Linked DNA regions of Homo sapiens: region 2 is linked to region 1. The links come from fine-mapping of genetic effects on gene expression. Tissue or cell type: monocytes after interferon gamma. Region 1 holds a variant in brackets; the other region holds the start of a gene. All regions are shown on one strand. Distances are between the middles of the regions.

The links. PIP is the estimated chance that this variant, and not a neighbour inherited with it, causes the effect.
Region 2: it holds the start of BLVRB, and the variant in region 1 is fine-mapped to the expression of BLVRB in monocytes after interferon gamma (Fairfax 2014, PIP 0.95).

What each region holds. Positions count from the first base shown.
Region 1 is chr19:40,433,082-40,441,182 of GRCh38, forward strand. It overlaps SERTAD3 (SERTA domain containing 3), which reads right to left. Exons shown (of 2, transcript NM_203344.3): 2 at 7,763-8,101. Among named protein-coding and RNA genes, the nearest start is that of SERTAD3, 7.2 kb to the right of the region's middle. RefSeq lists enhancers at 159-987, 663-742, a silencer at 853-1,142 and a cis regulatory region at 2,221-2,485. The variant CT/C (reference allele first, on the strand shown) is at 4,001.
Region 2 is chr19:40,462,144-40,470,227 of GRCh38, forward strand. BLVRB (biliverdin reductase B) reads right to left here and starts at 3,602. Exons shown (of 5, transcript NM_000713.3): 1 at 3,467-3,602. The coding sequence starts at 3,545. SPTBN4 (spectrin beta, non-erythrocytic 4) reads left to right here and starts at 4,858. Exons shown (of 36, transcript NM_020971.3): 1 at 4,858-5,162. RefSeq lists an enhancer at 2,676-2,795 and a silencer at 3,817-4,016.

The sequences.
Region 1 (8,101 bases):
TGCTTTTTTCTTTTCCTTTGCAATTACCTGCTCCTAAGGTACTAGATAATTTGTGTGGTTTTTTTGTTTTGTTTTGTTTTGAAAGTAGCCCGGCGTGATGGCAGGCGCCTGTAGTCCCAGCTACTCGGGAGGCTGAGACAGGAGAATTGCTTGAACCCGGGAGACGGAGGTTGCGGTGAGCCGAGACGGTGCCACTGCCATCTCAAAAAACAAAAACAAAAACAAACAAAAAAATTAGCCGGGCGTGCCTGTAGTTCCAGGTACTTGGAAGGCTGAGGTAGGAGAATCACTTGAACCTGGAGTTTGAAGCTGCAGTGAGCTATGATCGCCCCACTGTACTCCAGCCTGGGCGACAGAGAACGACTCTGTCTCAAAAAACAAACAAACCAAAACAAATGAGAGAGGTAGGAAAACTAGAGGAAGAGCATTCCAGGCAGAGGCGAGAGCCAGTGCAAAGGCTCTGAAGTGCTGCCTGTCAGGAGACAAGGCCAGGGCAGCTGGACTGGGAGCTGCCGGGAAGGAGGTCCGAGAAGTGAGGCCTTTTAGCCTACTCTGTGGACCTTTGTTTTTTACTCCGAGCGGGATGAGAAGACCCTGGAAGATGAATCGATGAGAAAAATAATTTCCGTTTCCGTTCAGTGACTTGAAGAAAACAAAATAAGACGGGATAATCGCCTGTAACCAGGGTGGTCCTAGAGAGAGATTCTTCGAGGCGTTGACATTGGAGCTGGGGCCAGAAAATGGAGACGGAGCCAGGAATTCAAAGGCTGGGGGAAGGGAGAAGAGGAGAGGCCGGGCCTGGGGAAATGAAACCATCGGCGAAGCCACCGGGCCCGGCAGGCCTGGAGAGAAGCCTCCGCCTGCTGGGGAGGGAGGCAGGGAGGGGGGTCGGGAGGCGCGGCCCGCCCCGTCCGGCCTCTGGGGAGGGAGGAGGCGCCAGGCCGGCTCCCGGCCGCGGCCGCCTCCCGGGTACCCCGGCCGGCCCAGGGCGGAGGGTGGGCAGCGGGGAGGGACTGGGCCTTCCCGCCACGCCCAGGGCGGGCCGCGGGCCCATCCCCCGCCGCGGAGGAGGGCAGGTTGGGGAACGTGGACACTGCCCTCGGGGACTCGGTTCCTTCTGCAGGGCCAGCCTTTCCACTTCTGTGGCCAGTTCTTTTTAACAAGTGCGGTGTTAAGGAAGGCGCTGGGCCTCTCGGAGCCTCAGTTTTTTCATCTGGAAAGAGGGTGCTCCTCTTACTGGCCTCATCGCGGTGCTAAGGAACTGTGCGATTCCCCTTCCCAGGGTTATCTTCAGGGCAGGCAGAGAGCTGCAGGGAAAGGGGGAGGGCGGGGCACGGTGGCTCACTTTTTAAACAAAAAGTTTGTTTGTTTGTTTCCAGACGAAGTCTTGCTCTGTCGCCCAGGCTGGAGTGCAGTGGCGCCATCTCGGCTCACTGCAACCTTCGCCTCCCGGGTTCAAGCAATTCTCCTGCCTCAGCCTCCCGAGTAGCTGGGATTACAGGCGCCCGCCACCACACCCGGCTAATTTTCAGTAGAGACGGGGTTTCACCATGTTGGCCAGGCTGGTCTCGAACTCCTAACCTCGTGATCCGCCTGCCTCGGCCTCCCAAAGTGCTGGGATTACAGGCATGATCCACCGCGCCTGGCCTGTTTGTTTTTGAGACGGAGTTTCGCTCTTGTCGCCCAGGCTGGAGTGCAGTGGCCCCATCTCAGCTCACTGCAATCTCCACCTCTCCGGTTCAAGCAATTATCCTGCCTCAGCCTCCGGAGTAGCTGGGATTACAGGCAGCTGCCACCTTGCCCAGATAATTTTTGTATTTTTAGTAGAAATGGGGTTTCACTATGTTGGCGAGGCTGGTATTGAATTCCTGACCTCAAGTAATCCGCCTGCCTCAGCCTCCCAAAGTGCTGGGATTGTAGGAGTGAGCCAGGGCGCCCTACCTGTTTTTGTTTTTGAAACAGGGTCTTGCTCTGTAGCCCAGGCTGGAGTGCAGCAGTGGGATTTCCTCTCACTGCAACCTCTGCCCATTATGGGCTCAAGCGATCCTTCTACCTCAGCCTCACTAGTAGCTGGGACTACAGGTGAGCACCACCACACCCAGTTTTTTTGTTTTTTTTGTTTTTTTGGTTTTTTTTTTGAGTAGAGACAGGACCTCAGGGCCTTGCCATGTTACCCCAGGCTGGTCTCAAGCTCCTGGGCTCAAGCAATCTGACTGCCTTGGCCTCCCAAAGTGCTGGGATTACAGGGGTGAGCCAACGTGCCTGGCCCTTCTTCAGGTTTTTACCCAAATGTCACCTTGTCTCAGACGCCCTATCTGGCCATCCTATGTAAATTGCAACACCCTCCTCACTCCTCTGCTCCCCCCTGCCCCCACAGCATTTATCACCACCTGGCTGACTTACACATTTTCACTTCTTTTTTTTTTTTTTTTTTTGAGACAGAGTCTTGCTCTGTCACCCAGGCTGGAGTGCAGTGGTGTGATCTCGGCTCACTGCAACCTCCGCCTCCCGGGTTCAAGTGATTCTCCTGCCTCAGCCTCCTGAGTAGCTGGGACTACAAGTGTGCATCACAATACCCAGCTAATTTTTGTATTTTTAGTAGAGATGGGGTTTTACCATGTTGGCCAGGCTGGTCTCGAACTCCTGACCTCAAATTATCCACCCACCTTGGCCTCCCAAAGTGTTGGGATTACAGGCGTGAGCCCCCACACCCGGCCTTATTTTTCTTTTTATTTACTTAATTATTTTTGAGACATAATTTTACTCTGGTTGCCCAGGCTGGAGTGCAGTGGCCTGATCTCAGTTCACTGCAACCTTCACCTCTCAGGTTCAAGCGATTCTCCTGCCTCAGCCTCTGGAGTAGCTGGGATTACAGGCGCCGGCCACCATGCCCAGCTAATTTTTTTGTATTTTTGGTAGAGAGGGGGTTTCACTGTGTTGGCCAGTCTGCTCTTGAACTCCTGACCTCAGGTGGTCCACTCGCCTTGGCCTCCCAAAGTGCTGGGATTGCAGGTGTGAGCCACAGCGCCCGGCCCTATCTAACTAACTATCTATCTATCTATCTATCTATCTATCTATCTATCTATCTATTTGGAGTGGGAGTCTCACTCTGTCGCTTAGGCTGGAGTGCAGTGCTGTGATCACAGCTCACTGTAACCTCCAACTCCTGGGCTGAAGAAGGGATCCTCCCACCCGAGTCTTCTGAATAGCTGGGACTAGCGTGCCCAGCTAATTTTTTTTTAAAATTGTTTTAGAGATGTGGTCTTGCTATGTTGCCCAAAGTGGTCTTGAATTCTTGGCCTCCAATAATCCTCCTGCCTCAGCCTCCTGAGTTACTGGGCTCATAGTCACGTGCTGCCATGCCTGGCATTATTTTTCATGTGTATTTCACTCTTCCCCCACTGTTAAATTTCATGAGAGCAGGAATTGTCTATTTTATTTATTTTCCTGCTGAAGAGTGCCAGGTCCACAGCAGGCACTCAATAAATCTGAGCCATTATTGGAATCCTTGGCCTGCCTCAGGCTCCCTGACACTTTGCAGTGTGAGGCAGGTATTACTCCAGATCCTTCAGTTTGGAATATGGTGTATATGAGGAACAGCAGGGAATGGTGTGGTGGGAGTATAAGAGTGAGGGTGTGTAGGGGAGATGAGTTCAGAAAGGTGGGAGGGAAAGTTAGTCATTGCTAGGTCTGGAGTTCATTTTTTTTTTTTTTTTTTTGAGACGGAGTCTTGCTCTGTCACCCAGGCTGGAGTGCAGTGGTGCAATCTCGGCTCACTGCAAGCTCCGCCTCCCAGGTTCACGCCATTCTCCTGCCTCAGCCTCCCGAGTAGCTGGGACTACAGGTGCCCGCCACCTCGCCCGGCTAATTTTTTTGTATTTTTAGTAGAGACGGGGTTTCACCGTGTTAGCCAGGATGGTCTCAATCTCCTGACCTCGTGATCTGCCCGCCTCGGCCTCCCAAAGTGCTGGAATTACAGGTGTGAGCCACCGCACCCGGC[CT/C]TTTTTTTTTTTTTTTTTTTTTTTTGAGACAGGACCTCCCTCTGTTGCTCTGTTCCAGATGGAGTGCTGGAGTGCAGTGGTGTTATCTCTGCTCACAGCCTCCATTTCCTGAGCTCGAGCGATCCTCCCACCTCAGCCTCCTGAGTAGGTGGGACTACAAGGGCATGCCATCAGCCCAGCTAATTTTATTTTAGTTTTTTGTAGAGATGGGGTCTCCCTGTGTTGCCCAGGCTGGTCTTGAACTGGACACAAGCGATCTTCCTGCCTCAGCCTCCCAAAATGCTGGGATTACAGGCGTGAACCACTGCACCTGGCCAAGTTTTTCAACAACAAATAATTTTTTTTTTTTTTGAGATGGAGTTTCGCTCTTGTTGCCCAGGCTGGAGTGCAATGGCACGATCTCAGCTCACCACAACCTCCGCCTCCTGGGTTCAAGTGATTCTCCTGCCTCAGCCTCCTGAGTAGCTGGGATTATAGCCATGTGCCACTACGCCTGGCTAATTTTGTATTTTTAGTAGAGACAGGGTTTTTCCATGGTGGTCAGGCTGGTTTCGAACTCCTAGCCTCAGGTGATCCGACCGCCTTGGCCTCCCAAAGTGCTGGGATTATAGGCGTGAGCTACCGTGCCTGACCCTTCAACAACAAATAATTTTGGAGAGTGCAGTTGTGCCAAGCATAGTTCTAGGCACAGACCAACACAACCCTCAGAGTTCCCAGGAGAGTAGGAGGCTACCTATAGATGGGAAATAAGTAACTCGAGATTGGGTAGATGCTACTAAAACAAAATCAGTCCAGGTGCAGTGGCTCATGCCTGTAATCCCAGCACTTTGGGAGGCCGAGGCGGGCGGATCACCTGAGGTCAGGAGTTCAAGACCAGCCTGACCAATATGGAGAAACGTTGTCTCTACTGAAAATACAAAATCAGCTGGGTGTGGTGGCGCATGCCTGTAATCCCAGCTGTTCGAGAGGCTGAGGCAGGAGAATCACTTGAACCCAGGAGGCGGAGGTTGTGGTGAGCCAAGATCGCGTCATTGCACTCCAGCCTGGGCAACAAGAGTAAAACTCCGTGTCAAAAAAAAAAAAAAAAAATTAGCCAGGTGTGGTGGCATGTGCCTGTAATCCCAGCTACTCGGAAGGCTAAGGTAGAAGAATTGCTGGAACTGGGAGGTAGAGGCTGCAGTGAGCCAAGATCATGCCACTACACTCCATTCTAGGAGACAGAGCAAGACTCCATCTCAAAAAAAAAGAAAGAAAGAAAATCAAACAAGTTGTGGTGGGGTGGTGACCCACCTGGATGTGTTGAGCTAGGAAGGGCAAGGAAGACCTCCCTGAGAAGGGGATATTGGGATTGGTGAAGCTATTGGGGAAAATGTCCACTGGGAAAATTTAACAGTTAGGGCAAAGGCCCTGGGGTGAGAAGGAGCTGGGGTCAAGGGAGCCCAGTTGAGTGATGGAGAGAGTGGGAGATGGAACTGAGAAAGTTGTCCGAAGTGAGAATAAGTCAGTCCTTGCAGGTCTTGGTGGAGCTGGCGCTTTATTGAGTGTGTCAAGAAGTCACTGGAGGCTGGGCGTGGTGGCTCATGCCTGTAATCCCAGCACTTTGGGAGGCTGAGATGTGAGGATCGCTTGATTCCAGGAGTTCAAGACCAGCCTGGGCTACATGGCACAACCCCATCTCTACAAAAAATACAAAAATTAGTCAGGTGTGGTCCACGTGCCTGTAGTCCCAGCTACTTGGGAGGCTGAGGCTGAGGTGGGAGAATTGCTTGAGTCCATGAGGTGGAGGTTGCAGTAAGCTGTGATTGTACCACTGCACTCCAGCCTGGGCGACAGAGCCAGAGACCCTGTCTCAAAAGAAAAAAAAAAAAAAAAAGGCACTGAAGGTTTCAAGGAGGAAGACATGATTCAATTGCCATCATATTGGGATGCAGACCTGGTTGCTTACCTTTTATTTTTATTTTTTACAATTCCACAGCAAGTATCACACCTGGTTGCTTTTTTTTTTTTTTTTTTGAGATGGAATCTCGCTCTGTCACTCAGGCTGGAGTGCAGTGGTATGATCTCAGCTCACTGCAACCTGTGCCTCCTGGATTCAAGTGATTCTCCTGCCTCAGCCTCCTGAGTAGCTGGGACCACAGGTGTTTGCCACCATGCCCAGCTAATTTTTTGTATTTTTAGTAGAGACAGGGCTTCGCCATGTTGGCCAGGCTGGTCTCAAACTCCTCACTTCAGGCAATCCTCCCGCCTTGGCCTCCCTAAGTACTGGAATTACAGGCCTGAGCCACCGCGCCTGGCCTGTACCTGGTTGCTTTCTTTAGATCCTCTGGGCCACCTCATTCCTCTCTCTGGATTGGCACCCACCTCTTCAGGTTATCCCTCCACTTTCTGACAATGACCCCTTCAGGTTGAGAAATCTGGCTTTGACCCAGAAACCACAAGCAAAATCCCCATCCTTTCTCCACCCATGGACTATACTCAGGTGTTGTTCCTCCTCGCAGCCCTTCCAGAAAAGTCCCTAATGCTGTGTAGCTCACTTGCTTCATCTCTTCAAAGACCATTGTAAAGGCATAGCCTGTACAGGTATCACATTACCTCTTCCTTCACTTCCTTCACCTCCTTCTCCTCTCCTGTATCTCAGCAGCCTGGGCTCGTACCTCCGAAATAAAGCATCAGCACAGGTCAGGCACAGTGGCTCATGCCTGTAATCCCAGCACTTTGGGAGGCTGAGGCAGGCGGGTCACTTGAGGTTAGGAGTTGGAGACAAGCCTGGCCAACATGGTGAAACTGTCTCTATTTTAAAAAAAATACAAAAATTAGCTGGGCGTGGTGGCAAGCACCTGTAGTCACTGCTATTCGGGAGGCTGAGGCAGGAGAATTGCCTGAACCCGGGAGTGGAGGTTGCAGTGAGCCAAAATCCTGTCATTGCACTCCAGCCTGGGTGACAGAGTGAGACTCCGTCTCAAAAAAAAAAAAAAAAAAAAAGCATTAGCACTATAAATCTAATCTGGGCTCTGCTTCCTAGCCAACTCTCCTAAAGAGGTCTTTTAGTACTGGGGGTCTTTGGGCATTTTCTTGCCCCTCTGGGCTCAGCAGCACATTCAGTGACACATACTCCGTGTGACTCAGTTTCTCCCTCCTGTGCCCACCCACGTGGCTGGTTAGTCTAAGAAGCAACATTTATAATAGTGAAGGACAAGGCTCTGGAGGCCATTTCAGCCTAGCTCCCTGGTCCTTGTTCTTCCTAGCTGTGTGGCTCTGAATTAAGTGACTTGTCCTCTCTAAACTTCTGGTTCCTCCTGTATAAAAAGTGGTAACAGTACTTACTTCTATATGAGGATTAACAGACTTAATTCAAATAAAGTGGCTAGAACAGTGCTCTTAACAAGCACTAATTTTTTTCTGAGGCTGGAGTGCAGTGGTGTGACCATGGCTTACTGCAGCCTCAACCTCCCAGGCTCAGGTGATCCTCCCAACTCAGCCTCCCCAGTAACTGGGACTACAGGCCGCCATGCCTAGCTCCTTTTTGTATTTTTTGTAGAGGCAGTGTTTCGCCACATTTCCCAGGCTGGCCTCAAGCAGATCCTCCCAAAGTGCTAGGATTCCAAGTGGGAGCTAGAGCACTCAGCCAACAAGCACTCAATAAATGTCATGTACAATGATACACCTACCCCAGCTATGGCACGGAAGTGGTGCTGATGTTTAGGAACTTACCAGGTCCCTCCCACTGACCCAGTGAAGTTTAGAAACATTAGACAACATCCCTCCTTCCAAAATACTTTTATTTAAAAAAATTACAAACAATCCAAAAAAAAAAAAAAAAGCCACCACAAACTCTGCCTTTCTTTTAAATAACCCGGCATGGAGCAGTTTGGTTTCCACCCTATTGCACGTGGTCCGGCCTGGTTATGAAATCAGGAGGCTGCTGAGACTGGGGTCCTGCCGAGGAAGTGGGGTTCAGCCTGGAGGGAGGACACCAGCCCCTCCCACCCCCTCAAGGTGCAAGAGGCAGAGCCTGGGTTTCTATAGCAACCTGGCAGCACATCCCTGTCATCCTTCGACAGGCCCAGCTTTCTTTATCTTCCCTGAGGCCCCAGTGGTCA
Region 2 (8,084 bases), 29 kb after region 1:
CATCTCTGAAGTGAGGATCACAGCACCAGCCTCCCCGTGCTATGTGACCACCTTTCATAGGGGAATGACACAAGATCTGTGCTGCCCTCACACATGGGGGAGCAGCAGGGGCTTGCATGGGCCAATATGGGCATTCTTTTTTTTTTTTTTTTTGAGATGAAGTCTCACTCTCTTGCCCAGGCTGGAGTGCAGTGGCGCAATCTCAGCTCACTGCAACCTCCGCCTCCCAGGTTCAAGCGATTCTCCCACCTCAGCCTCCAGAGTAGCTGGGATTATAGGTGTGCACCACAACACCCGGCGAATTTTTTGTATTTTTAGTAGAGATGGGGTTTCACGGTGTTAGCCAGGGTGGTCTCGATCTCCTGACCTTGTGATCCGCCCACCTTGGCCTCCCAAAGTGCTGGGATTACAGGCGTGAGCCATGGTGCCTGGCCTCTTTTTAAGCTTTTTGAAAATCTCAGCCATTGGCCGGGCGTGGTGGCTCACGCCTGTAATCCCAGCACTTTGGGAGGCTGAGGCGGGCGGATCATGAGGTCAGGAGATGGAGACCATCCTGGTTAACATGGTGAAACCCCATCTTTACTAAAAATACAAAAAAAATTAGCTGGGCATGGTGGCAGGCGCCTGTAGTCCCAGCTACTTGGGAGGCTGAAGCAGGAGAATGGCTGAACTCGGGAGGCGGAGCTTGCAGTGAGCTAAGATTGTGCCACTGCACTCCAGCCTGGGCGGCAGAGTGAGACTCTTGTCTCAAAAAAAAAAAAAAAAAAAAAAAAAAATCAGCCATCAATACAAAAAATTTCATTGCCTAACCTGGTGTACACAAACGCATACATATATAATTAAAATGAGTTTCACAAAACTAATACTTAACATGTGATACATTTTGATACTATGTCATCATTTGTTACCCTATATTGTTGATACACGTTGTGACCATATGTTTCAGATCTCATTGTAACTCACAGTTTGAGAAGCATCAGGTTGCAACAACCCTGCAAGGTAGGTATCATTATCCTGTCCACATTGATGGGGAAACTGAGGCAATTTTAGGCAACCGGGCCAGGATCACACAGCTAGTAGGTAGAGAAGGTTGAATTTTTACCTAAGTAAGTCTGATCCAGAGACTGCAAAATTCAATGCTAGTCTAAGTACCTCCTATATAAGATCTCATTTAATTATCCCAAGAGCCCTAGGGCAAGTACTACCAGTTTTGTCATGATCTTACACATATCTAGGTACACAGATGACAAGGCATTTGGTCACAAAGGCTGTAAGCCGCAGAGCTGGTGACTTGAATGTGGGCAGGCTGGCACCAGAGTTCATGCCTGTTAAGACTCTTGGCCCTACAGAACCATTGTGAACTCCAGTTAATCCAAGCCCCTTCTCCCTCCCTCCCTCCCTCCCTCCCTCCTTCCCTCCCTTCTTTCCTTCCCTCCCTCCCTCCCTCCATCCCTCCCTCCTTTTCTTCCTTCCTTCTTTCCTTTCATCTTGCTGTGTCACCCAGGCTGGAGTGCAGTGGTGCAGTGATGCAATCTTAGCTCACTGCAACCTCCCAGGTTCAAGCGATTCTTGTGCCTCAGCCTCCCAAGTACCTGGAATTACAGGCACGTACCACTGTGCCCAGCTAATTTTTTTTTTTTTGAGACAGAGTTTCACTCTTGTCGCCCAGGCTGGAATGCAGTGGCGTAATCTCGGCTCACCACAACCTCTGCCTCCCGGATTCAAGCTATTCTCCTGCCTCAGTCTGCCAAGTAACTGCGATTACAGGCACCAGCCACCATGCCCGGCTAATTTTTCGTATTTTTAGTAGAGACGGGGTTTCACTATATTGGCCAGGCTGGTCTCGAACTCCTGACCTCGTGATCCACCTGCCTCAGCCTCCCAAAGTGCTGAGATTACAGGCGTGAGCCACCGCACCCAGCCTCTTTTTCTTTCTTTTTATGTATTTTTTTAAATTTGAGAGACAGGGTCTCACCCTGTCACCCAGGCTGGAGTGCAGTGGTGCAAACACAGCTCACTGTAGCCTTGAACTCCTGAGCTCAAGCAATCCTCCCACCTGAGCCTTCTGAGTAGCTGGGACTACAGGCATGCATCACCACGCCCAGCTAATTTATTTTTTTTTTGTATTTTTGTAGAGATGGGGTCTTGCTACGTTGCCCAGGCTAGTCTCAAACTCCTGGCCTCAAGCCATCCTCCCGCCTTGGCCTCCCAAAGTGCTGGGATTATAGGCATGATCCACCGTGCCTGGCCAGCCCTTCCCTTTGCTGAGGGGGACAGCAAAGCTGAGAGCTGGGAAGAGATTTTTCAGAGCCACAGCTCTGAAGCTCCCTAGGCTCCAGTTCTTAACCCTCTGAGTGCAGTCCCAGCTATGACCAGCAGGGTGGGCGAGTGGAATTCGGTGGAATTAGTGGATTTCCAGGTGACTCAGCGCCTCTCAACTTCTCTCTCTTACTTCCTTCTCCATTACTCCCGAATAAATGCTTATCAGCAAACTGGTTTTTACTGAGAGGCCCACAGCTCCCCATTCTCCACAAGTCAAGATCCTCACGTGGTCTCCCTGGGGAAGGGGAGAGTTATGGACCTAGAGAAGAACTTTCAGAGTCCCTCCAAGGGAGACAGCAGAGTGGGGTCCTGTTGGCCTCCACCCTTTTGGGGCACGCAGATAGTCAATATCTTCAGCGTCCCCAAGGCCTGCAAGGGTGGGGCCCCATATCTGGAAGTCCCAGGCCCAGCTGGGAGTTGGTCAAGTCTGGGCTGTGGGGGCAGGGAGTGCTGGGGGATGGTTATCCCCTTTTCTGCCCTCTCTCCTGGGGCAACTCCAAATTTTCAGCCCTCATTGACTTTCCCAGGACTGCTGTCCCCAAGTCTTCACTCATGTCTCTCTGTGACTCCTTCCCATTAGGTACTCGCAGCAACCTGACCCCCCAACTTTTTCAGTTTCCAGCCTGGGGACTTGTGGTGGTTAAGAGCATGAGCTGAGTTCAAATCCCAGTCCTGTCAGTTAACAGCTGTGTGATATTGGGCAAGTCACTCTCTGGGTCTCAGTTTTCTCATCTGTCAAGTAGGGTGATACTAGTTCCCACCCCATTTTGAAAGCTCTCATGTGAAGAGACGACAGAGCAAGCTTGGCTTAGTAAATCCTCTCTGGGAGTGCGAACAACCACCACCACAACCACAATAATGACAACCGCATTGCATAAGAGCCCTGGACTTACACACGACTGTGCCAGTGGAGTCCTCCCGGGGCTCCCGGGGCCAATTCCTCTCTGGCTTGGACTCACATAAACTTGGATCTCACATCTTTCCCCATTTCTGCCCCCGTGGCCACTTGCTTTGGCCCCTGAGTCCTCATACACCTGGCTGGGGCGCTCATGGCCCCAATCAGCCTCGGCCCGACCCCATGGTGCCCCTTCCTAAAGTTCTGCCCGTCTGTCCCGTGACATGCCCCGCCCGCCCCGGCTCATGCCTGCTTGCACCGCCTGCGCCAGGGTGGTGAGCCCGGTCTGGCCAGTGGCGCCGAAGATCGCGATCTTCTTGACGGCCATCGTACGGGATCGTGGGGGTGCAAGGCCTCAGAGTCTCGGCACGCGCGGGAACCCACTGGCTGCTGGGCGGTGCTCTCTGCCCTACTCAAGCCAGGAACAACGGGGCGGAGCTGGCTCGAAGGGCCACGCCTCAGACTCTCCGCCCGCGGCTCAGGTCAAGGGGCGGGGCCTAACGCGGATGGGCGGGGCAGGCGTCAGCTTGCATTCGCTCACCGTCCAGCACCGCCCTCTCTGCGCGCCACTTAGACTGGAAGGCGGGGCCACAGAAGGCCACGCCTCCACATAGCAACAAATAGAGTGGACGGAGCCGAGATAACTTGTCACTCAGCGCCCTGCCTCCGCGCTCCACCTCCCGGAGAGGGGCGGGGCCAGGCGAGCCTCACCCACGGCCTCTCGTAGCTCACGCCCCCTCTCCCGGAGCCTGGAGCGGATCTGGGGCGCACTCTAAGCCCCAGGGCCTCCCAGAACCAGCAAGGGGAGAAAGTTAGGAGGACAGAGTGTGTGTGTGCACTTGGATGTAAGACACTGTGTCACGGCGTACCTATGCACTTATATGACCCTGTGTGACTCAGTGACCCGGAGGGCAAGCAGGACTGTGGGTGACACCTTGTGTCATCCTCTGAGTGTGATCCCGTGTTACAGTGTGACTACACGTGCGTGACACCACGTGTGGCAGGCATTGATTCTGTTCTTTTGTGACCTTGTGGTGACACCGTGGGTGACACTGCGTCAGCCTGTACGATAGGGTGTGGGACGTGTGAGGTGTGCTACATGGAAGCGTGAGACTAATTAGACTGTGACAGTGTGTGACACCACATGTCTCGTGTAAGGATGTGTGACACCGGGACCCCATTCGAGTGTGTGGCTGTGGGTGTCTGTGTTGAGCTGCTCATTGTGACCCCCTGTGACTATGATGTGTGAGGTGCGGCGGTGCAGCATGTGCGGGGCGACTGCTATGAAGGTTCGAGTGTGTAGAGTGTGTGACACTGTGGCTGTGAAGCTGTGCGTGATGTGTGGGCCTATGACACTGTTTGTGACTGCCGGGGAGTGTGCGGCTGTGTGTGACAGGTGCATTTGTGTGTGACGCCGCGTGGGCGGTGGTTACCCTATTGGATTTGTGTGGTGGTGGGTGACACCGTTCCAGTGTGGACGCCGCGTGTGACGGCGTGAGGGTGTGACCCCGTGAGACCCCACAGGAGGGAGTGACGGCGCGCAAGCGCGTGGATGCGGGGGTGAGTTTGTGCGCCGAGGCCCCCGCGAGTATGGCAGCGTGGCGAGCGTGACCCCGTGGGAGTGTGCAGCGCGTGACGCCGCCGTGCCCTCGCGAGTGCAGCCGTGCACCCCACGCCGCGGCCGGGTGTGACTGCGCGTGGGCCTCGGGCGGCGGGGCGCGGGGACCGCGGGCGGGAGGGGGTCCCGGGGGCGCGCTGAGCGCGGCGGCGGCGCGAGAGAGGGAGGCGCGGCGGCGCATGCGGATCTGGCTGAGCCGCGGGCCGGCGGGGCCGAGCTGAGCCGGGCTGGGCCGGGCCGGGCCGGGCCGGGCAGCGGACGCCGACAGGGAGGGCGGTCGGTCGCGGCGAGCAGCGGAGACAGCGACGCTGGCGGCCGCGGGCCCAGGTGAGCTGCTAGGGGGGCCGACAGCCCCTCCCCCAAGTATGTCCCCACCTGGCGAGCATCCCTCCTCCGCGCGCACGGGGCATGGCTGGAGCCCCGGGTCTCCCCGGCTGGAGGGAGGCAAAGGGTCGAGGGCAGGACGAGCCCACAACCCCCCCACCCGGTCTAGCTTCCGCGCCACGCGTGGGTCTTACCCCCAGGCCTTGTCCTTCCCAGGCCCCCTCCTTGGGCGCAGTGTCTGGACCGCAGGGAGAGAGGCGCGGCCTGGGAAGGGTTAAAGCCTCTGATGCCACCGCAGCCCAGCGCCCCACCAGCCTTTGCGGGGGGGGGGGGGTGTTGGGGGGAGGCTCGCAGGACACCCCTTCCCGGCTTCCCTATTACCTGCTCCCTTCCTTCCCATTCAATCGCGTTATGGCCAGAGCTGATCCTCGGCCTGGCCAGAGGGCTAACAGGAGTGCTAAGGGCCTCCCCATCTCTAAGTGTCTTCCACTGAAGAAAACAGCTGTAACCACCGTTTAACAGGGAGGGAAACTGAGGCACAGAAAGGCCAAGTTAAAGATACTCGGTTAAAGATACAGCAAGAATAAAGCGGAACTTGAACTCATTTCTGTCTGACTCCAGAAGAGGCAAATCGATTTGCTGAGATGTGTGAGGAAAAGATGAAGAATAATAGCAAGGAACATGTATCAAGGGCTTGCAGTGTACCAGATACCATGATCCCTGCATTAATAACTTACCTCTTCAAACACCGCTAAGAAACGGGTACGATTATCATTACTTTTTTTTTTTTTTGAGACGGAGTTTCACTCTTGTCACCCAAGTTGGAGTGTAATGGCGCGATCTTGGCTCACTGCAACCTCTGCCTCCCGACTTCAAGCAGTTCTCCTGCCTCAGCCTCCCAAGTAGCTGGGATTACGGGCATGAGCTACCATGCCTGGCTAATTTTGAATTTTTAGTAGACATGGGGTTTCACTATGTTGGTAAGGCTGGTCTCCAACTCTTGACCTCAGGTGACCCACCCACCTCCTTGGCCTCTCAAAGTGCTGGGATTATAGGCGTGAGCCACCGCCTGGCCTACCCTTTTGTGTGTGTGTGACAGAGTTTCATTCTGTCATTCAGGCTGGAGTGCAGTGAGTCAATCTCAGCTCACTGCAACCTCCATCCCCCAGGTTCAAGCGATTCTCCTGCCTCAGCCTCCCAAGTAACTGGGACTACAGACACGTGCCACCACGCCTGGCTAATTTTTGTATTTTTTTTAGTAAAGACCGGGTTTTGCCATGTTGGCCAGGCCGGTCTCGAATTCCTGGCCTCAAGTGATCCACCTACCTTGACCTCCCAAAGTGCTGAGATTATAAGCATGAGCCACCGTGCCGGGCCATCATTACTATTTTGCAGATGAACAAACTAAGGCCCAAAGAGTGGAAGTATTTCAGCCAAGGTCACACAGGTGGTAGGTAGCTGTGTGCTCACTTTCACTTTTCCATGGAAGGAGGGAAGAACAAAAATGGATTTGGGACTGGGCACAGTGGCTCACATGTGTAACCCCAGCACTTTGGGAAGTTGAAGTGGGCAAATAGCTTGAGCCCAGATGTTTGAGACCAGCCTGAGCAACATAGTGAGACCCCCTCTCTACAAAAAATACAAAAATTACCTGGTCATGGTGGAGCTTGCCTCTAGTCCCATCTACTCAGGAGGCTGAGGTGGGAGGATCGCGTGAGCACAAGAGTTGGAGGCTACAGGGAGCTATGATTGTGTCACTGCACTCTAGCCTGGGTGATAGAGCAATACCTTGTCTCAGAAAAAAAAAAAAGATTTCAATGTGTCCCCCTAAGGGACAATTTCCACTCTACTCACTCTACTGACCAAGACTTAGACCCTGCCTTCCTAGAATTCAGTGGGTTGGCAATTGTCTGGGTCTTTTGAGGACATTGATCTCCCAACTTCCTCCTTTGTTAGTCTTTTTTTTTTCCTTTTTCTTTTGAGAAGGAGTCTTACTCTGTCGCCCAGGCTAGAGTTTAGTGGCACAATCTCGGCTCACTACAACCTTCGCCTCCCGGTTTCAAGCAATTCTCCTGCCTCAGCCTCCTGAGTAGCTGGGATTACAGGCACCTGCAACCTTGCCCACCTAATTTTTGTGTTTTTAGTAGAGATGGGGTTTCACCATGTTGGCCAGGCTGGTCTTGAACTCCTGACCTCGTGATCCACCCGCCTCAGACTCCCAAAGTGCTAGGATTACAGGTGTGAGCCACCACGCCCAGCCGTTAGTCTTAGAATCAGGCCTGGGGGCCCAGAAGGTAAAGGAGATACATCTAATGTCACTTAACCCTTTAAATTTCTTCTCTTTTTTTTTGTTTTTTTTGAGATGGAGTCTCACTCTCTCACCCAGGCTAGAGTGCAGTGGTGCGATCTCGGCTCACTGCGACCTCCGCCTCCTGGGTTCAAGCAATTCTCCTGTCTCAGCCTCCTGAGTAGCTGGGATTACAGGCATGTACCACCATACCCGGCTAGTTTTTATATTTTTAGTAGAGGCGGGGTTTCACCATGTTGGCCAGGCTGGTCTGGAACTCCTGACCTCAGGTGATTCACCCACCTTGGCCTCCCAAAGTGCTGGGATTACAGGTGTGAGCCACTGTGCCCGGCCAATTTCTTCTTTTTTTAAATAATTTTTTGTTTTCTATTTTTTTATTTTCATTTAATTTAATTTTATTTTTTCTGAGATGGGGTCTCACTCTGTCGCCCAGGCTGGAGTGCAGTGGCACGATCTCAGCTCACTGCAACCTCTGTCTCCCAGGTTCAAGCGATTCTACTGTCTCAGTCTCCTGAGTAGCTGGGATTATAGGTGCACAATGCCATGCCTGGCTAATTTCTTGTATTTTAGTAGAGATGGAGTTTCACCAAGTTGCCCAGACTGGTCTCGAACCCCTG